3 linked regions of the Homo sapiens genome follow. The protein of the gene in region 3 interacts with the protein of the main gene of each other region in a pairwise test. Each region holds a gene or a part of one and is shown on either strand. Other genes may lie near its edges.

Region 1 (5,015 bases), on a different chromosome or scaffold from region 3:
ACTTTTTTTTTTTTTTTTTTTTTGAGACAGAATCTCATTCTGTCGCCCAGACTGGAGTGCAGTGTCGTAATCTCGGCTCACTGCAAGCTCCGCCTCCCGGGTTCACGCCATTCTCCTGCCTCAGCCTCCTGAGTAGCTGGGACTACAGGCGCCCACCACCACGCCTGGCTAATTTTTTGCTATTTTAGTTGAGACGGGGTTTCACCGTGTTAGCCAGGATGGTCTTGATCTCCTGACCTTGTGATCCGCTCGCCTCAGCCTCCCAAAGTGCTGGGATTACAGGCGTGAGCCGCCGCGCCCGGCCTCATTCCATTAACTTTATGAAATTCTCTTTTCCTTGTTATCACCTTAAAGTGTCCAGCAAGGAGATCAACTTCAAATCAGTTTCTGCAAAACTTCCATCCCATCAGAAGGTTCTATGCCAACCAATTAAATCCCCATTTGTTAGATTATGTCAGTCTTGTAAAAGGAGACAGCAAAATGATTAGAGTATGCATAAGTCATTTCCATCAACAGGTTTCAAGCAGTCTTTACTTGGGTTTAAAAACAGTGCTTCATGCATTTACAATAAGTTATTACAGAACTCTAAGTCACTGATGCACACACAAAAGCTAAACCCAACTTACTAACTATGCAGACCTCTCCTGATCTCCCCAGGCTGGGCAGTAATTAGTACCTTACAGGTGTGATCCATGGCCCAGAGAAGGCAGCCACTGTCAGTTACAGTTGGACTGCTGCATCACAGTGGAGGCAGCAGAGTTGAAGATCCACAGAGGGCTGTAATACAGCCCAGAAAAGACAATGGAGAGTGAAGGCTAGAAACATTGAGGAAGGGGTCAAGAAGCACTTGTACTTCCTGTTATCTTTTCCAATAGAATATTCCTGCAAGTTACCCATCAGAAAAAGGTGTTCAGAGGGTTTGAAAAAGAAGTGGTTAGCCCATGCCAGTGAAGGTGACAAAAAACAAAACAACTTGATTTTTGGTCATATCAGAAAGGATGGAGGGAAACACCCAAGTACATGCACGGACACATGTGCTCCAGCCAAAGGAGTGCTGTTTTCACCAGCCACAAATTTTCTAACAGCAACAACAAAAACCCACAGATGTAAGTAACATGGAAGTGGATCAGTCCTAAGCCAAATAAGGATTCCCACCTGGGGCAAAAGCTGACTTCCTAGGACATGAACTGAACACATCACAGTAAAAGCCCAGTAGAGGCTGCTGCCAGTTCCAGCTATTAGTAATTATGAGGGGGACAGGATGACACCTCACACGGACCACCCCTAGCAAGAGGGTTTGTTTCAGTTCTAGCTGTGAGAGGAATGTCTGCAGTTCCCACATGTGTGCCATGCTGTGAAGCCCATGGCCCCTGCTCCTCTCTCTGCCTCCCACACACTTAACAGTACACACAGACTTTGCTGGCAAGTGCTGTTTGTTCCTGCACTGCTATACTATACGACTGCAGGACAATGCCATCCGCTCCATGGTTCATTCAGCGCCTTGTCCCAAGGTAGTTGGTGGAGAGCAGGACCACGTTGTGCAGCAAGAGAGACAGCTCAGCTTCTGAAAACACAGTGTTAGTGGTTTGGCTTGGGAACACTGCCTTATAACTGCCTTGTTATATATGGCTTAAGCCTGGAGGCAGGAAGCCAAGTGCAGGGAGGGGTGGAATGAAGAAGCTGTTTTTCTCAAAGTTCCCCTTCTTTGTTTCAGCCCCTGTATGCATGCCTTCCTTTCCTTCTACTATATATTCGTATCAACTCATCCTCTATTTCTCATGTGATTGCAGTAGAAAATTCAGAGATGGTAATGGTACTAAACACCAGTCGCGTTGGGATTCTTCTGGTAGAAGTTGGTGCTCTAGGGACATTTCTCAGCTTCAAGATTAGTAGGCCTACCCTAACATCCAAAGGCCCACAAAACATCAAGACCTAGCCTAAACAGGGGGCAAACAAGCCTAATACATACCCTCAGATGCTTTGTGTTTGGTCAGCAGACTGTTTTTTTTCTGAGTTTGAATGCCTTTAGACCAGTACTTCTCAACGGGGACAATCCTGCCTCTCTCCTCCCCACCCCTAGGACATTTGGCAATGTCTAGAGACATTTTTGGTTGAGACAACTGTGGGTGAAGGGGTGCTACTGGCATCTAGTGGGTAGAGGCTAGGGATACTGCTATAATAAATACCTATAAAGAACAGGATAGGCTGGACATGGTGGCTCACGCCAGTGATCCCAAAACTTTGGGAGGCCGAGGCCAGCGGATCACCTGAGGTCGGGAGTTCGAGATCAGCCTGACCAACATGGAGAAACCTGGTCTCTACTAAAAAAAAATACGAAATTAGCTGGGCGTGGTGGTGCATGCCTGTAATCCCAGCTACTTGGGAGGCTGAGACAGGAGAATCACTTGAACCCAGGAGGCAGAGGTTACGGTGAGCCGAGATCGCACCATTGCACTCCAGCCTGGGCAACAAGAGCGAAACCCCGTCTCAAAATAAATAAATAAATAAATAAATAAAGCACAGGATATTCCCCCCATAAGGAAGTGCCAAGGTTGGAAAATTCACACTAGCATGCATTCACTCTTAGGTTTCCACAGTCCCCACTACTCCCTCTTGTCTTATGGCCTACTTCGTTACCTGCCGGGCATGCAGTAGGCATGTGAGTTTGTGCCCTTTCAATTAGATGTATGTATATATATGTCTCACAGTACTCAATAATTAACTCCAAAATGACCTCAGAATAAAATACAAAAGTGACTTGGATTTTAGTGGTATAACCACAGAAATGTGTTTTACCTTTCAGGCTGCAGGAAATCTGCAGCCATTCTCCCAGCCAAGTTCGACACCTATCTTCACCAATATGCGTAGAATTCAGGCCACGGAGATAACAAGCCTATACCACTCAGAACAGAAATGGTCCTTAATAATCATAGAATGATTATGCCAAGGAAATGGAAATCCACAAACAATCCTAAATCTCCTTTAAATAAGTTACAATCTCACCGGGCACGGTGGCTCGTGCCTGTAATCCCAGCACTTTGGGAGGCCGAGGTAGGCGGATCACGAGGTCAGGAGTTGGAGACCAGCCTGGCCAATATGGTGAAACACCATCTCTACTAAAAAATACAAAAATTAGCCAGGCGTGGTGGCATGCACCTGCAGTCCCAGCTACTCGGGAGGCTGAGGCAGGAGAATCACTGGAACCTGGGAGGCGGAGGTTGCAGTGAGCCAAGATCATGCCACTGCACTCCAGCCTGGGCAACAGAGCGAGACTCTGTCTCAAAAAAAAAAAAAAAAGTTACAATCTCATTCCCACATGAAGCCTTTCCTCATGGCAATTTGAAAACTAGTGATGGACAAGATGACAAAAGCAAAGAGTCCTATATAAGCTAAAATAGTAGGTCTAAACTGCAGTATCCTTGCTTTCTGAAGTGCCAGAAGAAAAGAAATACAAACCAAAATTTCTGTGGGCAATTCCTTCCCCCTAGCTAAGTTTCTTGAGAAAAAAGACACAGAAATGAGGTGAGGAGCTGGGCGCAGTGGCTCATGCCTGTAATCCCAACACTTTGAAAGGCCAAGGCGGGAGGATCACTTGAGCCCAGGAGTTCAAGACCAGCCTGGGCAACATAGTGAGACCCTGTCTCTACAAAAATAAAAAATAATTTTATTTTATTTTTTGGGTTTTTTTTGAGACAGAGTCTCACTCTATCACCCAGGCTGGAGTGCAGTGGTGCGATCTTGGCTCACTGCAATCCACCTCCTGGGTTCAAGCAATTCTCATGTCTCAGCCTCCCAAGTACCTGGGATTACAGGCATGTGCCACCACTCCTGGCTAATTAAAAAATAATTTTTAAAAAGGCCGGGCACAGTGGTTCACGGCTGTATTCCCAGCACTTTAGGAGGCCAAGATGGGAGGATTGCTTGAGGCCAGGAGTTCAAGACCAGCTTGGTTAAAATAGTGAGACTGAAAAATAAATAAATATGCTGGGTGCGGTAGCTCACACCTGTAGTCTCGGCACTTTGGGTTGATGGATCTCTTGAGGCCAGGGGTTTGAGATCAGCCTGGCAAACATGGTGAAACCATCTCTACTAAAAATACAAAAAATTAGCTGGGCGTGGTGGTGCACACCTGTAATCCAGCTACTTGGGAGGCTGAGGTAGGAGGATCACTTGAACCGGGAGGCAGAGGTTGCAGTGAGCCAAGACTGTGCCACTGTACTCTAGCCTGGGCAACAGAATGAGACTCTGTCTCAAAATAAATAAATAAATAAAAATAAATCATAAATAAATAAATGAAGTGAGAGAATAAAGAAGCTGGGTTCTATAAACAAACAAGACAAGGAGCCCCTGTAAACCTCCGGCCTGCCATAGGCTCAAAAGCACACCAAGGGTTGAGGGTTGATGTTGCAATCAAGCTCTTACCGATTTTACTTCCTGAGCAGTCAGCTGGCCAATCCCCAGCTTTGCCAAAGCCTTGTCCAGTTGGTGAATCACAGTTGTATGAGTCTTCAAACGATGTCTCAACAAGGGAGGAGGCAGGTAAGATGTGAGAAGCATGGCCCGGCTCAAGGCTTTCTGTAACACAACCACATAGGAGGGGAAAGGCAAATAGTATGAGCTCAAGCAAACACCTGAAACATGGTGATGCTATGGAAAAGAGAAGCCCTCAAAGTGCTCACCACGTGCAAAGCCTGGAGTTGGTTCATGCCCAGAGGATGGTTAGAGAAACACTCTCTCAGAGCCAAGATATCATGTATTGCTGGGTGGGTACCACGCTGTATCTTGGAAGAGGTAAGAGATTTGTAGATGTTAGGAAAGTCCTGACTACTCCTCTTACCTAGTTTAGTGCACACTGAATCTAACAAGATTCCACATTTGTAGGAAGGGTTAACTGCAGGAATACCTTGGTGCACAGATCTGTCAGACGCCACCGGAGTCCTGCATCAGAAATGAGAGGGATGACCTTTTCTAAATAACTAATAATTTCTGGGTGGGACTGCTTCCGGAAAGCATGA
Region 2 (9,417 bases), on a different chromosome or scaffold from region 3:
CATACTAGTTTAGGCCATTTATCAAAACTTAATGAGGATAGTTTCTTGAATTAATAAATAAAGTAACACGTGAAAGCTTTATAAACACTGAGGCCCTTTACCAAGATAAGATCTTTGTTTTCCATATGCCTTTATTTACTGAGGGCCTTAGTTAACCTTGCGTTATAGATGCAGAAAGCTCCACTTGGAACCATGCCAGGCTTTGGAAAATGAGGCAAGTTGCTGGCAATCCTAGGAGTTCAGTAAGCAGCTGTTCAGGATTGTTTCCCCTTAGTAGCCCCTTCAGGTTTCTAGCACCTTCCCCTTCATTTCCATCCCCAACTCTTTACCCTCAGCCTCCCCCACTGCCTTTTCTGCCTTGGTGCTAAGGCAAGGAATTATAACTTAGGCCCTGGAAACTATAAATGGCTGCTATGAGTATTACTCCTTTCAGGGAAGTTGCATCTACCAGCCAGGTAACATCTGAAGTTCAAGCTCAAAGACTACAACCCTACTGGTAGAATTTCACAGTTTGACCTACTAGAATCTGAGTAATAGGGCCTTCCAGAAATCAACCCTTCATAGGTATTTATTTTTGCTACCTGTAAGAGTGGCCTTGCTTAGTAATTTTCTTAGTCTGAGTCATTTGAAGATGGTATACATTTCTGAAACGTAAGGATACTTTTCTTAATTTGAACATAGAAAACAAGTTGAATTCTACAATATTAAACAAAAGTATTTTCTAAATAAGAAATAATCAAAATCACATAATTGAAAAAAATTGTTCTATAAAAATTTGAAGTTTGATTCTATTATAAAGACTATACAATATGAAAAAATGCAATAACATTAAGTGAAAAAATTAGAACAAAAGATTTAAGACATCATAGTTATAACTATGTAAAAATGTGCACAGTTTGGATGGTAGGATCTAGGCTGAATTTTTACCTAACATTTTTCATTTATATATATACATATGCTTATCAATTTATTTCAAAAATGTTATTACATATAATACGCCAGAGACTATGGTAATCCTCCAATTTGCAAGATGAAAAATAGCTCTTATCCTCAAGGCATTCATTATGTTGTTTATAATGTTGTTTAAAAAATAAATAAAGCTCATGGTTAAATACATGGCAAAAAAAAAATAGCCTAAGATATATATAAAATTAAAGCTCCCTAATCTTTCATGGAACATACTTAGGAGAATAAGTTTTTTAAAAAAAGAAATATAACTGGATGTGGTGGCTCACGCCTGTAATCCCAACACTTCGGGAGGCCGAGGTGGGTGGATTGCCTGGTGAAACCCCATCTCTACCAAAAATACAAAAAATTAGCTGGACATGGTGGCATGCATCTGTGGTCCCAGATACTTGGAAGGCTGAGGTGGGAGGATCATTTGAGCCTGGGAGGCAGAGGTTGAAGCCTGGGTGATAGAGTGAGAACTCGTCTCAAAAAAGAAAGAAGGAAGGAAGGAAGGAAGGAAGGAAGGAAGGAAGGAAGGAACGAACGAAAGGAAAAAAAGGAAGAATTAAAACAAAAGAACTTAAAAATTTTTTAATCAAAAGACTAAACCAAAAAAACATGTATATTCAAAATCTTTCAGGTTCCTAATTCCAAAAGTCAATGAACATCTTTCTCTCCTCATGCCCCCTGTGCTCTTTATGGCTTCCAACCCCGCTAACTACTCCTGCCCTGGCTTTCCCTACCCTACTGTTAGTTTTTTATCTATGTTTCTGGCCAATTCCCCCTTCTCAATAACTTCCACTAGATCTTCCTTCTATACCAGTTCCAAAAAATGGCACTGAGTTTCATTCTCGACCATCTTCTTACTTATTCAACACAACCTTCCAGGATAAATCAATAAAATCCAGTTATCTATGGAGCACCTGCTCTATGCAAGGCACTGTGTGAAATGCTCATCCATACTCACGGCTTCAACCATCTCTTACATCCTAATAACTCCCAAACATTTCTCGACCTTGAATGACCAGGTCATATACCAAGAATTTATTTGGTATCTCCACCACAGTGACTCTGATGCATTTCAAATTCTGCATGCCAAAAACTAATTTCCACCATGCTTCTCTGTCTCATGCTCCTCAAGGTTAAATTCTCCATTCTTGTTGAAGACGTTACCATGCCCTCAGCTACCCAGGACTGAATCCTGAGCACTAGAATCTCTTTCTCTACACCCACCTTCTTCTTGACCTCTTACAGTCAATCACTAAATCTAACAAATGCATCCCAAATAGCTTTTAGATTTATCTTGGTTAGGAATCTCTTAATTCTTTCTCTGAATTTCCTCAGTAGTTTTCTAACTGGTCTCCCTATCTTCTTTTTACCCCACTAATGACACATCTTCTATACTTCAACCCAAGTGATTATTTTAAACTGCAATTTTAACAATCTCACTTCCACAATAATACTTTTGGTGGCCCCATGTTATTAGTATACACGACAAGTTCTTTAACACCGGGAAGACCCAAGTCCTTCCCCATTTGCGTTCCGCCTACCTGCTCAACTTCCTAGCTCCCCACTCTCAATCTAAATTCCAGCTCAGGATTTTCTCCCTTCTTCAGGACTTAGCAGATCGTGATGCATCTGGCTAAAGCACCCTTCCCTTGCTATCAGAGGCCACACTAGCCCACATGGTGCCTGTGTGCCAATTAGGAAGAGGCACTACCTCTGAGCAGGTGCTGCAGTTGCTGGCTGGCCAGATGGGTGAACAGCACTTTCACACAAAGAAACAAATGCCTCCTGGTGAACAGAAAGAACGTAAACCTGGTATCAGCTCCACTTGTTTCCTGGCCCAGCCACCTGAGAGCAGCCTCTTGAAGCAGCTCTACATCATTAATGGCATTCTTCATTCATTTCTCTCAGTCAAAAAGTCTTGGAGAATCTGAAAGCTGAGGTGGCATGGCAGCACCAGCTCCAGGAGGTCATGTCAGTTGTACGGTGTACAACTTACACAGTCTTCATGGCAGTCCTGCTATATAGCGTCCTCTGCTTATAATGCATATGCTTTTCTATCCAGGTTGAGTTTACTGCCCCTCCAATGTGCTCCCATAGCTCTTTGAACACATCACTAATCATAATGTTTATTCCATTCTATCATAATTCACTTTTGATTTATGTGAGTCTCCACTGAAATGCATGATCTTTAAGAAAAATAGCAGGGTTTCCAAATACCATATGTTTTCCCATAAGTGGGAGCTAAATATTGCATAGACATGGATGTAAAGATGAGAACAAAAGACACTGGGGACTACAAGAGGGGAAAGGGAGGGAGAAAAGGGTTGAAGAAGCCACCTATTGGGTGCTATGCTCAACTCCTGGGTGATGGGTTCATTTGTACCCCTAACTTCAGCATCATGCAACACACCCATGTAACAAACCTGCACACGTACCCACTGAATCTAAAATAAAAGTTGAAATTTTAAAAAACTATAACAGGCTGGGTGCAGTGGCTCATACCTGTAATCCCAGCACTTTGGGAAGCCAAGGCAGGCAGATCACTTGAGGCCAGGAATTCGAGACCAGCCTGTACGACATGGTGAAAGCCCATCTCTACTAAAAATACAAAAATTAGCCAGGTGTGCTAGCACATGCCTATAATCTCAGCTACTCGGGAAGCTGAGGCAGGAGAATCGCCAAAACCTGGGAGGTAGAAGCTGCAGTGAGCCGAGATTATGCCACTGCACTCCAGCCTGAGATTGTGCCACTGCATTCCAGAGCAAGACTCTGTCTCAAAACAAAAAAAAAAAAACAAAAATGAAAAATAAAATTAAAAATTAAAAAACTATAGCAGGGTTTTTACTCAAACTTTTCCCAAACAGCAATTTCTAAGCTAATGCTGGTCAGTGGCATCATTGCCACTAGTCCATAGATTAAAATGAAGACCATGTTTAGAGTTTTCCAACATATTTAAATTTCTTCTATAGAAAAGCTGTTCTTAGTTTTGGATTTGATTCTTCTGACTTTTTAACATTTTAATACTACACTAATAACATTATTTACTGTATGAAAAGAGGATGATGAAAGCTCTTTTATCATGTTAGGTTGTTGTTTAAGTTCCTGACCTGGCAAAATAAAATGTTGATAAAACAATGCCAGTTCCTCAAATTTAGTTGGTTATTTTATGTATTTTCTCATATGTATAATTGATCATAGGGTAAACCACTGCTTTAAAATAAAGACTGGCTCCCTGTGAGCCCATCAATCAGGCCCTGCACCTGTTTAACCAAGTGTAGGGAGCAGTGCACGTGGAGATCTGAGCCTGCCTGCGCCTCCTTGCCCGCCTCCACTACATCATGGGCAAGTACGCAGAGGCCCTGAGAAGCCAGCAGAAGGCAGTGCTGATGAGCGTGCGGGTGATGGGCATCGAGCACCCCAACACCATCCAGGAAAACATGCACCTGGCCCTGCACTGCTTCACCAGCAGGCAGCTGTCCCTGGCCCTCAGCCTGCTGCAGGGCGCCCACTACCTCATGCGCTGGTGCTTGGGGAAGACACCCCGAGGTGGCGTGCTGGACAACATCAGGCGGGTGCTGCACAGGGTGATGGAGTACGACCTGTCGCTGTGCTTCCTGGACAACGCGCTGGCCGTCAGCACCAAGTACCAAGGGCCCAAAGCTCTCAAGGTGGCCCTTGGCCACCACCTCATCACCTCGGTCTATGAGAGCAAAGCTGAGTTTCCGGTCGGCCCTGCAGCACCAGAAGGAAGGGCTGGCTGCACACCCTCTGTAAGACCCAGCTGGGCGAGGACCAGGAGAAGACCAAGGAGAGCTCTGAGTACCTCAAGTGCCTGACCCAGCTGGCCGTGGCCCTGCGGCGCGCCATGCATGAGATCTACCGCAACGGCTCCAGCAACAACATCCCGCCCCTCAACTTCACAGCCCCCAGCATGGCCAGCGTCTTGGAGCAGTTCAAAGGCATCAATGGCATCCTCTTCATTCCTCTCAGCCAAAAAGACTTGGAGAGTCTGAAAGCCGAGGTGGCGCAGTGACACCAGCTCCAGAAGGCCAGCAGAAACAGGGATGAGGCCAAGGAGCCCAAGGCCACCGAGCCCGAGCCAGCGGGGGCACCAGAGGACCTGGGTTCCCAGCCCCGGGCTGCCAATGACCCTTCTTCCCCGAACTTGCAGGGATAGAGAGGGACAGGCAGATGGACAGTCAGTCAGTGGCCTCACTCACCAGGGATCCAGACTCTAGGAGAAAGGAGCATACCTGCCATGGGAAGAGGAAGCAAGGCCCTCTTCTTCCATGTTTCACCCTCACTGCACCCCCAGCAGAGCATCCTCCTGGGACCCTGGCCTGGCCTGTCTGCTCTCCAAAAGATGTTTTTGCACTGGTTCAATGAATATATGATGCAGAGCCCCTCCCCCACAAAAAAAGACTGGCTCCCTAATCGTTATGTCCCTAGCATAACAGAGTAGGCTCTCCATAAACGTTGGTTGAACTCATTGCTTTGTTGGTCAAGACACTGTAAATATTTCAGACAGAGTCATTTAGGTTACTTTCATTGTTCGTTTTGCTTATTTTTTTTTTCAAAGTAAATGTACATAGCCACACAAAGGAGCAAACCAAACAAAACCTTAAAGACTATATAAGCCCACCCTTTGAAACACTATAATCATATTTTGTCAGAAATAGACATTAGTTATGGATACTTCAAGGTGCATACTAACCCAAGCTATCTTCTAGAACATATGGAATGGTATGAGGCCATCTATACTTTTCTCCAATGATGGAATTTCTAATTTGTGCCTGTCAAAAATAAATGCAAAAGGGCTAGTTAAACAAATAAGGCAAACACTTAGGAAACCTGTAGTTAATCTAGAAATAAATGAAGTTTAAAGCTCTCCCAGTTCGCACAAACAAATTGTGTGTGTGTGTGTGTGTGTGTGTGTAGCCCTACTTTTATCATAATATAACAAAGTTTCTAGGAAGAAATTACTAATTTCTATCATTTTGTTAATACAGTTGAAGAAGGAATAATGCAAAAAATAACTGTTGGAAAACTGAACTACAAATATTGGTAGATTTATAGGTTAGTTTCCTACACTTAAAGATTAAAAATTTGCAAGAAAACAGTGATAGCAAGACCTTGATAATCTGGATCTCACAATATCAGAAAAAGTCACACATGAGCTGGGCCAAAGTTTTCAAAAATTTTTAAAGGATTTTAAACTGTATAATAGAAAATGAGTAATATTTTACTAATGTATTTACTCAGTCCACAAATTGAATATTGTCCTAGAGAATAGAGATTCCTTGGTAATAAAGGTCTCTGGCTTCATGGAGCTTATATCTAGTGGAGGACAGAAAGAGTATGTAAAAAAAAAAATGTTTAAGCAGGATGAATGCAATAGGGAGGAAATTAGAAAGAGAGATGTGAACAAGGGCACAGGGATGACGGAGTACATGAGATGGAGTGATCAGGACAGTCGTCTATGAAGGGATGATATTTAAGGGGAAATAGGGATCGCAAGACAGAGCCAGCATTGAAAGGGGTCCTGGGAAGGTGGTTTCAGGCAGAGGGAACATTAGTTGTTCTTGTTCTGAGGTGGGAATATGCCTGGGATGTTTTGAATATGTGTTGAGACCAGTAGCCTGATGAGTCTAAGAGAGAACGTGGATGAGATAAGAGGAGAGGAAAAGAGAGGAGAGGGGAGGGAAGAGGGGAGGACAGAAGCAGGAGCTAAGGCATGCTAGGCTTAGACAGCTGGGACTAAATCGGGAGATGATTCTAAACCCATAGGCAACTATGGAAGAGTTTCAAGCCAGGAGGTGAAATGAAGTCACTGCCTGTTTGAAAAATGACTTTGCTGTGAGAGATAAGGACAAGTAACAGGGTGGAAAAGATTATAGGGGAACAATATCTGAAATAGAAAGACAAATTAGGAGGCTAATGGAAAAAGCCAGGCAAGAGATGATGGGGCCTGAATTAGAGTGATGGAGAAAAGTGGACGATTTGCAGTGTATGTTAGAGCTAGAAATGATAGAACTTGCTGACGGGCTGGATGGGGAGTGAAGGAGAGAGGAGAAGCAAAGGTGGCGCTCAAGGTTTTTATGTGTTCAGTTGAGTAGAGTCAGGTTGTGAGGATGACTTTATGAAGACAGGAGAGTGGGGAGGAACAGTTTGGGGGGAAGGTCAGAGTTCACCTGATCAGAGGACACCTTAGGTTTGAGACGTCTTGTAGACATTCAAGTGGAGCTGGCAAATTAGTGCTTGGATAGACCAGTCTGGAGCTCAGGGAAAGGAGAGGACCAGAGATATGCCTTTGGATTCATTGGCATGGAGATGACATTTGAATCCCTGGACGAAGGTGAGATCAAGAGAGAGCACAGATAGAAGAGTAGGCTCAGGACTAAGCCTGGGAGACTGCAGCTCTGTTTCCTGGGGGTGGGAGGACTGTGAGGGATGTTGGTGCTTACGATATAGGAAGTAAGGGAGTGACTTAGGACTGTGTTGGAAGGAAGAGCAGAATTTTACAGGAAAAGATCTACTGGGTAATTTCTAGGCCACATGGTGTATATATTTTAAACTATGCTAGCTCTTCTCAAATTGCCTTCTTTCTTTTTTTCAAATTTATACACTCTCCAGTATAATAACATGTTCTAAACACATTCCTAAACAAGCATCCTAGTTTCTCTCTATCATCACCAAAAGGGATAGTAAGTAGTAAGTTTCTTAATATTTTTCAATCTAGTGGGCAATAAACTATATCTTGTCTTTTGAAAAATAGTGCTTATTTCCATGCTGTGAGAGAACACTGAAAAAAACAGTGCTTTCATGATAGTGAACTTTTTAGTCCCCCTAATCTACCTGCAAGGTTCTTGTGTTTATCTGTGTGGCATGATGACTTAGATGAGAATCAGCACTCTTTATGAATAGGTTTGGGAGGGTCTTAACTTGGCAACATTATTTTTAGCTAAGGCCAGGGTAGAAGTCACAAAATCTATTTATTGGGGTAAAAAGCCTGATTCATTGAAGATGTTTACAAATTCAGTTTAATTTTGCCTCCACTAGATTGAATCTGTGAGGTCCTATTTTAAAATCAAATGTCATATTGCTCCAATAATGAAAATCAATCAAATCAATAAGACTAAGACATATGTAATGAGTTATGGTGGCTTGAACCACACAGAAATATGAGTAATGAAAGATGAAGACACAATTATATGCATTTCTTTGAGTATAATATATTCATTGAATAAATGTGTCACCATGATTCTGCACCCTTAGAGATAGTTAGGCTTAACAAAGTTCATGCTGTCTAATCTTTCTCAGTTACTCTGAATTTGGCTTGCAGTGGTTAATGGAAGATTCTTCCTTATACTGTTTCAACTCACCCTATCAAGTCTGATGTCACCCTCAAAAAGATCCAGTCCCAAACCTAAGAGTAAAGATAAAAATTCATGTTAGCAAATTGGATTCAAACTCTCTACTTAAGAGATTATGTAAAAAAAATCCACAAACCTTCATTGATATCAAATATGTCCTGGTCCATTCCGCCATCTACATCTTTGATTAAAACAACAACAACAAAAAATTGAACATTATGTTTATAAAAGGAGAAAACCTTTATCATTTATATAATCAGAACTAAGCAAGTTTCTTTTGGCCTCAGGTGACTACTAGATTCAGACTCAACATACATTGATTGATTGATTGATTGATTAAGAATCTCCTATGAGCCAGGTTGGGCTCTAAAGAGCTTTTATGTATGTATTCTGTCCTATCGACATTCCTTGAATGTCAAATGACTTCGGGAATAAGAAATTGGTTGCTCCATATATTATTAAGCATAATTTGAAAGACTAGAAGACTAGATTAAATAGCAAACAAATGATTAAATTTGGTCAAACTAGCCCAATCTACTCATACATGTATATCACTTGCTAGTAGTATACCTTGGAACTTTCAAGCAAAATTCTTAAGTTAAACTTGAATTACTATTTTAAGTTGTAAAGGTGTATATAATATGGCCAAATCTCCGAGTATGCAAGTGAATACTGAGTAGACTGTTATTATTAGGTCCATCTGATTTGACACAAAATAACAAAAACAATAATAGCAAGCATTTATGGGATGTCTATGTGTCAGTCACTGTGCTTGGCCTTTCCTATACCATCTATTTCTTTGCTGGGCATATGAAGCCTGGAACATGGACAATAAAATGTCCCTCCATAAATCAAAAGAATCCAGTATTAGATCAAAGTTCAATGCAATTATGCATCAATTATGCATATGTAATTATGTATGATGTTTAGCATTAAATATGTCCTAGGTTCTCTATAACCTAGAACAAAACTCAAAATAGACTCACCAAAGTTTTCTGGAGTTGCCTGGGAAATAAACACATAAACAAAACATATTATTATAATGCCCAGGAATGGTCTTCTTGGATTCAGTTTATATCTAACCATT
Region 3 (9,417 bases):
AGGAAATAGCAGACACTGTTCCTTGCCTATCAATTAGCCAGTCCTTCCTACTCACCCACAGAGCCCTGATTTTATATACATGTACCTGGCAAATCTGTCTTGACTCAGGGAAGCTAGGCTCCTGCCCCAGGCCTAGGGGATAAATCAAAGTTAGTACAAATCCACCATGGTAATCCCATTGCTTTTTGCTAGATACTGACTTTCTTAGCCCCCTTGGAGTTAAGGGTATCCATGTGACACAGTTCTGACCAATGAAACAGAAAAGGAAATACGGTAGAAGGCTTTGGGACAAAATTTTCCTCTGCTGATAAAATATGAGAGGCGCACAAATAAAAGGTCTTCCAGCTTCCTGCTCTTGAAAGCCTTAGCGCTATATGGCAACAATCTTGTTATATATTAAGGAAACAGGCGTGGGCGAGGAAGATTATACTCCAAAGTCGCTGGAAAAGAGCATGGATTTCTGCTGTAGCGCCTTGAAATTTCAACCTCCAGACTTCTTACATGAGGTAATTCAAGGTCATTATTCTTTAGGCCACTGTAAATGGCTGCAGCTCACTGAACTGACATAAAAGGTGTGCATCATCACCAAAAGCTTTCTAAGCTAAGCTTAAGCTCGGTATTGGTCAAAATGTGCTCTTCTTCTTTTGCTGAGGTTTCATCTATCAATCAATATTTCAAAATACTTACAGCTAATGCTTACTTGGAGGGAGACAGGAAAGGGACAACCTTCCATACTATTTTTCAAATTATTTCAGACACAATAAATCCATCTGGAAAAACATCCACTTTTACAAGTTCTTAATTCAGATCTATTTTGTTCTTACCATGCAAAATAGATCAAATGCTTTTTTATATGTGAACTGTACAACCTTTTTATATTTCTGTTTTGAGTTCTTGCTTTTAGGACCAAGTTCACATTTCTTATGCATAAGATTTAATATTAAAAAATTGTTAGTCCAACTTATACTCAATGCTTAGGAACATATACACCATTGTACCAGTACAGAAGAAAACCACTAGCCATATCACATATTTTTAACTTGGAAGAACAAAACTTTACTGTGTTTTATTCTTTGAATAATGATGTCTTAAGCTGATTTAAGTACAGGAAAAAAATAATAAGACAAGGAACAAAAAATGAAAGTGAAAAAATAAATGAAAGAAAATACTCTTAGGAAGGTTTTTCCTTAAATCAATGAAAAGCTTAATGACACAAAGTTAAAGAACTATGACTATGATTAAGTCAATTTTCCTCTTTATATGTTAATGAAACTAACTCCCCTTAATTGAGCACTTACAGAATGCCTGATTTGTCCTAAACGTTTGACATATATTATCCCAACTCCCCCCAACCCTATCCCCACCTTTTACATATGAGAAAACTGAATTTTATAAAAGTTAAGCTGTTTGCTCAAGAGGTAATAATCAGCTCCATATACACATGCTTTTGGCTACTCACACCTAAGACACATAGGTACATACTATGTGTTCTGTGCATGGTTCATAAGTAACTCAGTTGCTACAATTCAAACTAGCCAAATGACATAAAATTAAGTAATAGTATGTCTTCACAGCATTGGCTTTATTATTCAAACCAGTTGTACCAATATCAACTATTTACCAGAGACTGACAGTGTGGAAAAAAAAGCAGTTCATTAAAATATATCTATATATCCATTTATACCCATATATATTTTAATTTTATCCATATATATGGATAAAAAGCTTTAAGATGTCCTATTGGTAAAGAACAGAAAGGAATCATCTTCTGGTCCATCTGCTTTATATTTTATTTCTAATGTGGTAACTTATGTTTAATAGCAAATATTCCAGAGGTTAAGATAGGTTCTTTGGAAATTGAATATGAAGAACATGGACCATAATGTTTATAATCCTTTTTGTTATGGCAGACACATAACTTGACCATCCTCCATGCCCACCATGCATGGGATTGCTTTTGGCTGTATTTATCAGAGAGTATGATGTAGGAATTCTTAGTAATTCAAAATGGTTTTCCTATTATCAGTACCTCAAATAAGAAGGAAAAAAGAATCAGACATTTTAAGACATAAACACTAGTTCGTTTCCATGCCAATAAGGAAAATATTTTTCTCCTTCATAGAAAAAAAGAAGGCAGGAAACTATGCGTGATCAGAAAGTTACATATCTTTTTCACTGCAGAGTATATGTGCTTTTAAAGCAAGAGAGAAAACCAACAAACAGTACGAGAAAGACTAATGAAAGACTGACCGGGCACAGTGGCTCATGTCTGTAATCCCAACACTTTGGGAGGCCAAGGCAGATGGATCACCTAAGGTCATGAGTTCAAGACCAGCCTGGCCAACATGGTGAAACCCCATCTCTATTAAAAACACAAAAAATTGGTGGCAGATGCCTGTAATCCCAGCTACTTGGGAGGCTGAGGCAGGAGAATCGCTTGAACCCGGGAGGTGGAGGCTGCAGTGAGCTGATTGCGCCACTGCACTCCAGCCTGGGCAACAAGAGGGAAACTCCATCAAGAAAGAAAGACAGAAAGAAAGAAAGACAGACAGACAGAAAGGAAAAGAAAGAAAAGAAAGAAAGAAAGGAAAGAAAGAAGAAAGAAAGAGAAAGAAAGAGAAAGAAAGAAAAAAAGAAAAGAAAAGAAAAAAGATTACAGAGGCAGTGGAGTGAGAATAGCTAGAGCCTGGGAGGTCAAGGCTGCAGTGAGTCATGATTGCACCACTGCACTGCAGCCTGGGTGACAGAGTATGACCCTGGCTAAAAAAAAAAAAAAAAAAAAAAAAAAATTAAGATGAGTCTATAGAATACCTATAATGAAGTATAAAGAAAAAAATGCAGTCATTCAGTGGTCAAATCTTTTGGTGTTTAATTACAGTGATCTCATTTACCACTATCCACCATTTTGTTTTTAAATGCAAAATGGAAGAGTCAGTCACAGTCAAATATAACAATGCGGAATGTGGACAGACATCCCTACACTTAAGACTGAATTGGTCCCAACACACCTGTGACCTATGTCAATTAACTTCAGTTTGTGGCCTTGATTTCCACATCTGTTACAGGTGGCTATCACCCTAGCAGCTTAGTCTCTAAGACCCCTTTTAGCTAACATTTTATAACTCAAAACTGAATGTGTGTGTGTTTGTGTGTGTGTGTGTGTGCACCCAGGAGTTTGAGACCAGCCTGGGCAACATGGCAAAACCCCATCTCTACAAAAAATACAAAAAATTAGTACACACCTGTAGTCCCAGCTACTCCAGAAGCTGAAGTGGGAGAATCACCTGAGCTTGAGAAAGTCAAGGCTGCAGTGAGCTGTGTTCATGCCATTGCACTCAGCCTGGGTGACAGAGTGAGACCCTGTCTCAAAAAAAACACACTCAAAAAAACCAGGCTGGAGTGCAGTGGCGCAATCTCGGCTCATTGCAACCTGTGCCTCCTGGGTTCAAGCAATTCTCCTTCCTCAGCCTCCCAAGTGTGTGTGTGTTTTTTTGAGACAGGGTCTCACTCTGTCACTCAGGCTGAGTGCAGTGGCATCAACACAGCTCACCACAGCCTTGACTTTCTCAAGCTCAGGTGATTCTCCCACTTCAGCTTCTGGAGTAGCTGGGACTACAGGCGTGTACTAATTTTTTGTATTTTTTGTAGAGATGGGGTTTTGCCATGTTGTCCAGGCTGGTCTCAAACTCAAGCAATCCACCCATCTCAGCCTCCCTGCCTGTCCCCCCAAAAAAACTGTTTGAATGATTGATGGTAAAAAAGATTAATGCCAGGAGCAATAAAAGAGCAGATGCAAATCCCACTGGGACAACCCTTTGTCAATAAAACCAGTGGTTCTATAAGTATCTGTGTCAGATTGGTATCATAAAGTTTAACTTAATCTCAAGTAACCTCACAACTTAGAAGGGGAACAACCTAAGCTGCCTTTTCCTAGGTAAAGGAGGGCCACCTTAGATGCGGACCGCAGTCTAGACAAGTGAGCGATCCCTTAACTAGATCACTTGGTCTATCAGAGGCTGCAGGATATATATAGTAGACACATGACTCAGAGTGACTGATAAGCTCCACTCCCTGGAATCAGGAAAGTGTGCAAGTGACAGAATGAAGTCAGGGTACGTTTCTACAGCCCCCACTTATATTTCAGCTGCTACAAAAAGTAATTTCATTCACAATTTTGAAATTGTTTTAAAACTTCTGCCATATTAATTCATACTTCCCCAAAATTAATTGTTAATGTTATGAATCACCACTAAATACCTTAACATGTTATATTTGTATTTATACTTGTTTTAAATGCCATGTGAAAAAATTAAGTTGAAAACTGAGTCCTCATTCAAAGTCAGTCCTGAAAAAGAGAAGTCCAGGTCAGAAGGAGATGAGGGAGGCTACGACAGAAAGAAGGACAAATAGACTAAATCTCCAGGGCCTTCATAAAGAGAAAAAAAAAAGCTCATAAGGAACATTCCAGAATAGAGTATTAGAAATGAGATCCTCCTCCACAACTGCTTTAGAGCCCAGAAACTCTGATCATGAATAAATAATTTAAATCATTCATCTTATTTGCTTTTTAAAACTTTATTTTCTTTATGACACAGGCAAGCGGGCGAACCTTAACTGAAACGCTGGCTGTCATTATTTTACAAAATAGTCACAAGTTGTTATAAGGATATTTTTATTACTTTTTCATTTCTCCACAACACTTTCATCTTAAAAGAGTCCAGCACTCTTAGCAGTAATGTTAAGTGAAACAAGGACAGTAAAAAAGTTGAGGAAGGTTAAATGTTTAAATGCTTAAGATTTCAGATTTAAATTAAGTAAATTAAAGATTTAAATGTTTAAGTAAATTGCTTAAGTCACAGTTTGCAGAATGCCTGTTATATTTTTTATCCAAGTGCACATCGGCCAGAAGGCCACATTGGCTTGTGCTTCATACTACCCCAGAAGGCAAAGCGCAGGCATGCATTGCTCTGCTCTTCAACACTTTAACAAAGCACATATAGATCCAGAGAGAAAAGCTAGTGTAATGGGAACATAGGCAGCTCAGTAGAAAATACATCTGCTCTGAAGTTCTCATGAGTAAAAAAGAACAAAACATAATTACAATTTAAAAAAAAAAAAAAAAACCCACAAGAAAACAAATACACCCCCTACTAATGAGTCCAAGAAGAGAACTACAAATACACATCCTCCAGTACTGTTAAGGAAACAGCTCTGCTTCCAGTGACTAGCTGCAAAACAGAAAGTGTCTGTTCACAACTGTCATTCACACCACGGTGACTTTCTCAAAGTCTCCTCTGGGTAATAAACCTCTTTAGGAGTCTGTCAATGCACACCTTAAGCAAGTAGACTGCAACTCTTTTTAACTTGTGTTCCCCAGAATGTGTCCTCCCTTTGTGTGCTGAGCATCATTTAGCTAAGAGGATGCTGTTGCTTTTACTTGTGGTTAACTGTGTTACAACTCTTGTAGATATTTTCATTGTTTTTTTTCTTCAAATTAACCTTCTTGCCATCCCTTTCTGATCTGACCTCGATAGGGGTCATCCCCAAACATCTTCCCTTGAGATACTTGTCTCTTGAAACAGAACTAAAGGCAACGCTGCATCCCCTTAGGAAATCCAGTTCAGTGTGCCATTTTCAGGTGGCCTTGTGCTAGTAAAACAGAGCAAGCCTCTGCTGTCATAAGTCAAAGCTACATAACAGATAAGAAAAGTTGTTAGTAACATATTCTAACTAATGTCTACAAAACACAGTCAATGCCTATGTGTGCAGATATATGATTTGGGATGACAGTACCTTATTTGAGAGGAAAAATACACTGCACAAAGGTAATGTATTGACAGGGTCAACTGTTTTTTTGAAAGGCCTACATTTTTTAATTTTCATCTCTACATAAGGTGATGTTGTGTTTGTGGGACATTCAAAGAGCCACAAGGGAGGTAGCATAACGTAATCATTAAAAGCATGAAATTTGGAGCCAGATTCTTTGGATTTAAATACCAGTTTCATCATCTGCTAGTTGTGAGACCTTGATCAAGTTATTCAAATTCTCTTTCTGTGTTTCCTCATCTGTAAAAATGGGAATAATCATAGCACTTACATAATAGGGTTGTTCTGAGGATTAAATGAGCTATATTTGCAAAGCACTTAGACAGAGATATGTACATATCTGTTAAATAAAATGCTACACAGATTTCAGGAGTCATACAAAGAGCTAAATGCAATATAACTCTTTACACCAGCAGCAAAAGTTTAAAATGGGCTTGTGAGGACACACAGAAACTAAAATGACACATTACTGAACTGGGTATGAGATTTCAAAAGTGTTGTTAAAGATTAAATATATAGTGCTGGACTCTCGTCTTGAACTCCTGGCCTCAAGCAATCCCTCTGCCTCAGCACCCCAAAGTGCTGAGATTACAGATGTGGGCCATCATGCCCCGCCCCCTAAACATATTTAATCTTTCTAACATTGGCACTAAAATATGCCTAAATGTGCTTTACATTCCTGTGTAGTTCCAGACCAAGCCTGGCCTCTGTGTGACCTTGGGAAACACACTCCACCTTTCTCTGTCCCTGAATTGTCATTTTAAAACTAAAGGAACTGGACTACCTGTTTGATCTTTAAGGCCCAACTCTGATAGTCCCAGGAAGGTGGCAGCCCAAGTCTTAAGGAAAATATGAAATAAAAAGAGGAAAAGTAATAGACATTTTTATAGAATTTTAAGCAAAAAAGTTACTGGGTAGGACAGAAAGCAAACCTTCCCCTTTCCTTAAATAGAAGATAAAGTCTGAGTTTGCCTCACAATTCCATTTGTACAAAGGAGCAAGTACAGGACTAGGGCCCTGGCTCACTAGCGCCCACCCTGGAGGGACTGCACCAGGAGGACTTACTCACATATGAGGGTGCAGCACAGCATACACCCTCCAGAGGACTCTTATTTGTGCAATCCCATTAGAAGCAGGGCTGCACCAGACATTAAAGGCCATATATTGTATGATTCCGTCTACATGAAATGCTCAGAATAGGCAAACTCATAGAAACAGAATGCAGATTAGTGGTTTCCAGGGGCTGGGTAGGAGGAATAGGGAGTGATTGGTGATGGTTTCCCTTTGGGGTGATAAAAATGTTTTGGAATTAGACAGTGGTGATGGTTACACAACTCTGAACATACTAGCCACTGAACTGCATACTTTAAAAGTGTACAATTTATAAGTATCTAAATTATATCTTAGCAATGGGGGGAGGTCTATCTTTATAATAAACATTTCCAGTAGTCTGCCTCCTGTTATCAGTAAAAGAGGGAAGTAAGGAGATTAAGGTAATTATGTCAACAGTTCTTGATGAAAGGAAGGCTGGAATTAGATTCCGAATTGCCTATATAAGATGGCCAAAAATTCTAGAAACTAGAAGTCAGAGATGAAAGACCCTGTTCTCAAAGAGCTCAAAGGGAAATTATGCACACGGAAAGAACAACCAGTAGGAAGAGGGGTATACAATAAGGTACTGGTTGCTCCCCAGTGAGCACTGGGCAAGTCTTCAACCATCTACATGCTCCAACGTGCAGCAGACCCTGACCAGGAGCCAGGTGCACCTGAGCTTCACTCACAGACTTCCAAAGGGAGTCCAAAGGGAGAAAAGCTAGGAAGCCAAGTGAGCTTTTCCCAATTTCATCTTTGCATCCTGCAGTCTCTTGACCCAATACTGACACTACTCCCCTTCTTGTGATGGCCCAAGGAGAGGAAACAGCAAGAGAAAGGCTGAAAGGTGAGAAAGGAAGGAAGTAAATTACTGGCAATAGTTTGGCAAGATCGCGAACTCCTTACAGAGGTCACAGCAGCCAAAGTGACCTTAAAATATAAATCGTATCATGTCACCCCCTATTTAAAACCCATCCAAGGCAATCAGAAAATGCAAACTCCCTACCACCATCTGGAATGAAATGCACACTTCTACCACTGACCCTACCTGCTGGCACCTGCACCTCTCTGGTGCCTCCCCCACCACTCTTTGCTCACACAGAGCTAAGCTGTGTGCTGCCTCAGGGCCTGACACACTCTTCTCCCTCTCCCTGGCTCTGCTCTTGGCTGGCCCCTTCTCATTCCTCAGGTCTTCTCTACCAGAACTGTTTATTTACTTTAGAGGGCTTACCACACGGTCACTACTTTGCCTATTTCTTGCCTGGGTAGACTGCTCATTCAACAAGGACAGAGAGTATGACTACCTTATTTCTTGCCATATCTAAAGTGCTACCACAGTGCCACACATGTGACTGGCATTTGATTTTTGCTAAATAGATGAACCTGTATTTTAAAAAATAACTCTGGCTAGGGAGCATAAGAGTTACAAGAGGTATGGAGAATAGTTAAAATGAAGGTGACTGCTATGGTCTGAATGTTGTGTTCCCCCAACATCCATATGTTGGGACCTAATACCCAATGTATTAGTATTAAATAGTGGTGCCTTTAGGAGGCAATTAAGACATGAGGGCTTGGCCAGGTGTGGTAGCTCACGCCTGTAATCCCAGTACTTTGGGAGGCTGAGACAGGTGGATCACCTGAGGTCAGGAGTTCAAGATCAGCCTGGCTAACATGGCAAAACCGCATCTCTACTAAAAATACTAAAATTACTCAGGCGTGGTGGCACACGCCTGTAATCCCAGCTACTAGGGAGGCTGAGGCAGGAGAATTGCTTGAATTTGGCGGGGGTGGGGGCGGCCAGGGATGGCGGTTGCAGTGAACTGAGATTACGACACTGCACTCCAGCCTGGGCAATATAGAGCGAGACTCTGTCTCAAAAGAAAAGAAACAGGCATGAGAGCTCTGCCCTCATGCATGGGATTCGTGTCCTTATAAAAGAGGCTTGAGGGAGCCAGTTGACCCTTCTACCATGTGAGGAAGCAGTGAGAAGATGCCATCTTTGAAGCAGGGAGCAAGCCCTCACCGGACACCAAATCTGCTGGTGCCTTGGTCCTGGATTTCCCAGCCTCCAGAACTGTGAGCAATAAATTTCTATTGTTTATAAATTATCCAGTCTAAGGTATTTTGTTATAGCAGCCCAAGCAGACTAAGACAGTGTTCACAGGTCACACTTTAAGCAACATGGATTTTGATGCTACTAAAGACCACCATTTTCAAATACTTTTTCTTTCTTTTGGACAATTATACAATCATATTGGTTATGCAATGAACAGACTTGATTAGACTAATGTAACACCGACCGCCTGAATATTTGCTCACGGGGGTCTGTATGCTTTATTCTGTGCACACAATCCCGTTTTTCCTTGAGTCTCCTCCATAAAGCAGAGCCCGGGGTAGGCCTCAGGGCTATATGTAGCTAGACTTTCTGGAGTATGACTAAGTGTCTGTACCGGACTAACACAGTAACAACTACTAGGTAACTGCAATTTAATTGCTCAA

The links.
Region 1: the proteins of REEP5 (region 3) and LETMD1 interact in binary tests that used the Homo sapiens proteins (3 or more experiments, as listed by UniProt).
Region 2: the proteins of REEP5 (region 3) and MEP1B interact in a protein complementation assay, tested with the Homo sapiens proteins (one study listed by IntAct).

What each region holds. Positions count from the first base shown.
Region 1 is NC_000012.12:51,055,910-51,060,924, reverse strand, and holds the end of LETMD1 (LETM1 domain-containing protein 1), read right to left. Parts: coding exon 4,904-5,015; intron 4,782-4,903; coding exon 4,680-4,781; intron 4,576-4,679; coding exon 4,423-4,575; intron 2,920-4,422; coding exon of another isoform or gene 2,894-2,919; coding exon 2,797-2,893; intron 2,322-2,796; exon of another isoform or gene 2,187-2,321; intron 1,565-2,186; coding exon 1,494-1,564; coding exon of another isoform or gene 1,490-1,493; 3' UTR 501-1,489; downstream 1-500. UniProt on the Homo sapiens protein: Plays an essential role for mitochondrial structure and function, as well as thermogenesis of brown adipocytes.
Region 2 is NC_000018.10:32,191,740-32,201,156, reverse strand, and holds part of MEP1B (meprin A subunit beta isoform 1 precursor), read right to left. Parts: intron 9,336-9,417; coding exon 9,317-9,335; intron 8,512-9,316; coding exon 8,467-8,511; intron 8,384-8,466; coding exon 8,340-8,383; intron 5,751-8,339; coding exon 5,672-5,750; intron 5,331-5,671; exon of another isoform or gene 4,190-5,330; intron 1-4,189. UniProt on the Homo sapiens protein: Membrane metallopeptidase that sheds many membrane-bound proteins. Exhibits a strong preference for acidic amino acids at the P1' position. Known substrates include: FGF19, VGFA, IL1B, IL18, procollagen I and III, E-cadherin, KLK7, gastrin, ADAM10, tenascin-C.
Region 3 is NC_000005.10:112,910,775-112,920,191, forward strand, and holds part of REEP5 (receptor expression-enhancing protein 5), read right to left. Parts: intron 1-9,417. UniProt on the Homo sapiens protein: Plays an essential role in heart function and development by regulating the organization and function of the sarcoplasmic reticulum in cardiomyocytes.